2 separate regions of the Homo sapiens genome follow, and region 2 is linked to region 1. Evidence: fine-mapped expression QTL. A gene starts in region 1. The other region holds a variant in brackets. All regions are shown on one strand. Distances are from middle to middle.

The links. PIP is the estimated chance that this variant, and not a neighbour inherited with it, causes the effect.
Region 2: its variant is fine-mapped to the expression of IL1F10 in sun-exposed skin (GTEx, PIP above 0.99).

What each region holds. Positions count from the first base shown.
Region 1 is chr2:113,066,284-113,069,204 of GRCh38, reverse strand. IL1F10 (interleukin 1 family member 10) reads right to left here and starts at 1,235. Exons shown (of 5, transcript NM_173161.3): 1 at 1,189-1,235.
Region 2 is chr2:113,108,347-113,111,267 of GRCh38, reverse strand. It overlaps a transcript of IL1RN not described here. Among named protein-coding and RNA genes, the nearest start is that of IL1RN, 18 kb to the left of the region's middle. The variant A/G (reference allele first, on the strand shown) is at 1,557.

The DNA.
Region 1 (2,921 bases):
ACACTAAACCACACCTCCTGGCGACATAATTCCTTTCTTATCTTCTCAGTGGACGTACTCACAGGTGTCCCATTGTTCTCCCTGCCTCAAAAGTCATCCCTTCTCATTGTCATCCATTCAGATCTTTTGATATTAAGATCACTGGAGATAGTATCAGTATAGATGGGTTCAGTATCTAGTTCTATCAAATTAATTACCAGTGTAGAGTTACAGCTTAGACATACAGGGTTATGTCTTTTAACCTCCAACCCTCAGTTTCAGCACTATACATTCATGGGATTAGATTATGTGGTTATGAAGGTTCTTTCTAGGCCAAACTATTTATAATTCCATGACTCAGAGTTTAATGAATCTTTCCCTTACTATTGTAACTCTACTCTGAACTCCTATTAAATTTTACTGTATTATTTATTGTTGTACATAAAGATATTTGTTTCCCTTATAAAAGTTTATAAGATCTTGAAGTCATGAAGCATGGCTTACAGCTCACTTGAAGCTCTCTCCAACCACCCTAATTGAACTACCCTGGTCCTTGTGGCCAGGACATAGAAACACACAGAGCAGACTTTGAATAGAAAGGCTGAGTCCTAGACCTAGCTCTGCTACCAATTTATTTTGCCACCTTTTATCCCTGGGCCTTCAACTTATCAACATTGGATGGAAAGATTGAGTAAGGTATCTTTCAAAACTGTTTTAAGTTTCACAATAAAATTTTATGCAGAATTCTAATGATTGTAAAAAGGATAAAGGGCAGCTGCTTTGCTGACACAGGAAGCAATGGAGACTTTGGAACCCTGCTAGTATTTCTCTTGCCTACAAAGAAGACACTGAGGAGCTACCAAGGAGCACAAAAAAAAAAAAAACGAAAACAAAAAATCTCTTAAGCTTCCACCAAACACGGTTTGAATACCATTGGCCCAGATGGTTTCTTTTGAGATTACTTTCTAAAGTCAGTTGTTCTAAGTAGTTCAGAAATCTTGATTTGGCTTAACCTATTCCTTCTCCTCAAATCTCTTTATGTGCTCCTAAATGTTTTTGATGTCCCATCATGTCATATGAGGGGACTACCTTGTTACCTAGACAGCTTGCCAGGAGGAGTGAAGGGATAGAGGGCATACCAGAGATATTGACAGGAGAGAGTAGAAAAGAAAGAAAAGAGAGAGAGAATATTGCCTGTCCATCACTGACCTGCAGATCCTGAGTTCCTGGAACCCTGATCCCTGGAGACTCCAACTGATTTCTCCAGGGCATTGCGCTGTGTTTATACCGTCTGGTACAGGTGGGTCAGGCCTGCACCAATCTCTATAATTGGCTGCAGGACATGAAGGAAGAAGAGCCTGGGCATTTCACAATGTCTTTGGTACAGCATGAATAATAAGATGGTGGGAACATTAAGGAGCATTTGTTGAAGGGGGAGAGAGTCATCCATAAAGCCTTGGCAGAAATAAGGTATGGGGCCCCTGCTCTGTACTGACTGTCGTTGACTATGTTATTAGTGGGTTTGCAGCCAGATAAACAGTGCTGGGGTCAGACATCTTTGGTGCCCCGTGGGGCTCCATCCTAGGCTTGAAGAGGTGGTGAATACAAGAGAAAGTATGTCTGGCAAGCCCAAGGACAGAACAAATTCTGATGCCGGAATCCAGGCTGTGGCCAGACAGCCAGAATAAGAGAAGGGGCTGATAGCACTGTGAGTGTGACTCTGTTTGGAAAGACGAGAAGGGAGTCTCTGCTTTTCAGTGGGTTTAATTAGTTGGTACCAGCTTGATGGGACAGAACATCTAGGGAAACCCAACTGCAAAGATATTGACCTCAGATTCACCCTGAGACTGAGCAGACATCATGTGCCATGGACTGCTAGGAAATATGATAGTGTGAGTAGAGCACAGAGGAAAGAACACTCAGGTCTCTAATTGACATTACTTGACTCAGTCCATCCATCCATCCATCCACCCGGCCACCCATCTGTCCATCTATCTACCCATCTGTCCATTCTTCCATCCATCCATCATCCATCCAACCATCCATCCACCCATGTGCCCATCCATCCACCCTTCTGTCCACCCTTTCATCCATCCATTCATCCATCCATCCATCCATCCATCCATCCATCCCTCCATTACAAGCGTGGAGAAGCTTAGGTGTAATGTTCTCTGGAAACTAACAACCTTATTATAATTCTCCCTCTTTGGTCATTTGCAAAGTTCCACCAAGGGCTTCTTGAGGAAGTGGGATAGGTGGGTCTAAGACTCAGATGCCTGCAGGATGAGAAATGAGAAAAGATGGGCAGAAATGGGACCAGATTTCTGCTTTCTAAGGCCAGTGATCATTCTTCTTCCACTCTCCCAATCTCTCACCCTTCTATGGGAAGGCTTAAAGCATGAGTTACTATGTCAGGCAACCAATGAGTGTTTACCCAGCATTTACACTGCTGTGTGACACAGACATTCAATACACAGTCCTTGTTGTTAAGTAGTTTCACAGTCTAGCTGAGGAACTAAGTCATAAACACTTGAAAAGATAATTAAGAAGACCAGACTCTCTAAGCTGTGGGCCAAGGACATGTTGGAAACAATAGTGGCAGATAAGCTCCTTGGGCAAAAAAAAAATCTTAGAATTGAAAGGACTTTAGGCCAGGCATGGTGGCTCATGCCTGTATCCCAACACTTTGGGAGGCTAAGGCAGGCAGATCCCTTGAGGTCAGGAGTTCAAACCAGCCTGGCCAACATGGTGAAACCTCGTGTCTACTAAAAATAGAAAAATTAGCCAGGCATGGTGGCATGCACCTGTAGGCCCAGCTACTTAGGAGGCTGAGGCAGGGGAATCACTGGAACCTGGGAGGCAGAGGTTGCAGTGGGCCAAGATGGCACCACTGTACTCCAGCCTGGGCGACAGAGTGAAACTCCATCTCATAGACATGGAAT
Region 2 (2,921 bases), 42 kb before region 1:
AAGTCTTTCAACCTTTTTGAGATTCAGTTTTCCCAGATTTAAAATGAGGATTATAATGCTTGACCTACCTTTTACTTGTCTCATAGAATTGCTGCCAAGATCAATTCAAAACAAGCCCTTATATGCGAATGTGCTTTGTGAACTGCTAATTCCTAGACAAATGTAAGAAACAATGCTTATTACACGTGAAAGGCAGTATGTGGTCAAACAGATGGCAGTGTAGGACCTCTCCAAAACCTCTAAGCCTTTTGGTTACTCCAACTGGCAGAGGCCAAATGCAAACATTTCCATTTGATAAATGGAGAGACAGAAGTAAGTATCAGGGAAGTTGGTAGGCATAACTCATTCCAGAAATTAGTTCTTGGGATCCATGTCCAACACATCGATTTAGTATGGCTCTGATGACACAATGGAAACCAGAGGCAGCCTACCCAAGAGGATATGGACACCCACAGTGGGATAGAAAGGAGTTAACATTTGTTAAACACCCACCTGTGCCAGGCACTATGCCAGGTGCTTTATATAGGTTGCGTTTTTATCCCTTTAAGAATCATAGGCACTTTACCATTGACAAGTCAAAGGTTCAAAGAGAAGGAGTAGTGGTAACTTTTTAAGGATGCAGAGCTAAGAAAGAGCAGTGTCTGGCTTTCTTCAGCACACCTAATTATCTTTGCGCAAGGTGAGGATCCTGCTCCAATGCCTCGGGAGTCATAATTGAGGGGGCACTGGGAGCTACAGAGGCTGGCCAGCATTGAAATCTGTTTCTACCCAGGAATTCAAACTGTGTGAGAGGTGAATGTCTTTGTCTCTTGCAGCAAAACGTACCTCTTTAATTTTGGGATGATCCAAGAACCTGATGTGATTGATCAGAGAAATTTGCAAAACTAGGATAGCTTGGAAAGCTAGGATAGCAAGCCCACAGCACAGAAAAAAAGCTTCTGTGAGGAACAAGGGGCACCAAGAAGAAATATTCCCATAAACCCCAGAATGACAATGGTTTCCTCAAAGGCTTCAGAGTAGGACCTGGGATTTGAGTGTTGGCACTACTGCCGGACCAGAACAGGATTGTGTTTGCCTGTGTACGTGTGCATGTGTGTGAGTGTTCATGCAGTGAATGACATGGAGTCAGATATACCATGGGGACTTTTTTTTCATCTGCAACCACATAAGTCTCCATCCAGATCTATCTAAACACGTTTTGAAGGTGACTGTGGTCCTTTGGTAAAGGCACACCAGTTCTCATCCTGATGGATAATGTGAAGTAGGTCTCCAGGTGAGGTGTGAGGATCAATCAGCAGGAAGCAGAGTCAAGAAGAAACCAAGGCATGGCCCAAATCTTTTTCTCTATGGGGAAATTTCCCCATCTGTAAAATGGGGATGAAGACAGCACCTTGGTCATATGGGTAAAGTTTGTAGTAGGACAATGCAAATATGGTAAGTGCATGTCAGCTGATAGCCATGGCTCTTCCAAAATTTTATATATGCTGAGGTTTTTTTTTTTTTTGCAGTCATAATAGTTTAGAAGTGTCATACATTTGTTGAGAATTAAGTGCTTC[A/G]TCACTATGTTGTGCCTTTCCCCCTTCCTGTTAGTGTTTTCTCAGTGAAATTCTGCTCTGATATAAAAGGGTGAACCCAGCTCTCTTCTAGTTAGTTTGACTGTGTTCTTCCATCCCTTTACTTTCAACTTTTCTGTGTTTAATATTTTAGGACTGTGTCCTGGAAATATCATTGCCAGATTTTAAAATCCAATCTGACAATATGTCTTTCAACTAGGAAGTTTAGTTCATTTTCATTTTTTGTAATCTTTAATGTATTTGGATTTGTTTTACTATCTTAATTTTTTTTTTTTTTTTTTTAGATGGCGTTTCGCTCTTGCTGCCCAGGCTGGAATGCAATGGCACAATCTCTGCTCACCACAACCTCTGCCTCCTGGGTTCAAGCGATTCTCCTGCCTCAGCCTCCAGAGTAGCTGGGATTACAGGCATGCACCCCCACACCCAGCTAATTTTGAATTTTTAGTAGAGATGGGGTTTCCCCATGTTGGTCAGGCTGGTCTCGAACTCCTGACCTCAGGTGATCCACCCATCTTGGCCTCTCAAAGTGCTGGGATTACGGGCATGACTTAATTTTTTATTTTATTTTAGCCCCTTTTCAATGCTTCTTTTTCTCTCTCACCTTATTATTTATTTTGGGTGGGGTGTTGGTGGTTGCTATTGTTTTCTTATTCCATTCCCCTTCCCATATTGATTTAGAAGTTATATACTCTGTTTCTCTTGTTTTAGTGGTTACTATTAAATTTTTGTCATGACTATTTTACTTCTCAGGGTCTAAAATTAATAAATATCTAACCCCCTACCCAAAAAAATATGATTTATGAGTATTTTTAACCTTGATCATCTCCCTCTCAACTTATAGGCTTAACATTTTAATTTGTCTTAACATTTTAGTTCTGCCCTTTTTCTAACCCCACATTTCGACTTATTTTTCAAAGATTTGTTTAGATTATTCTACGTTTCCTGTTTTCTTCCTCACCATTTTTTACTGACATCCAAGGTCCCCTGTGGTAAGCAGAATAATGCCCCTACTCCACCACCCGCAATTCCCACATCCTATTATTCCCTTGGGCCTGTGACTATGTTAGGTTACATGGCAAAAAAGAAATTAAGGTTACAGATGGAATTGAGGTTGCTAATCAGCTAACCTTAAAATAAAGAGATTATCCTGGATTATTTAGGTGGACCCAATCTAATCACAAGGGTCCTTAAAAGTAGAGAAAGGAGGCAGAAGAGGTCAGAGTGATAAGATAAGAGAAGGGAAGGGGAACATCGCACACTGGGGACTGTTGTGGGGTGGGGGAGGGGGGACGGATAGCATTAGGAGATATACCTAATGCTAAATGATGAGTTAATGGGTGCAGCACA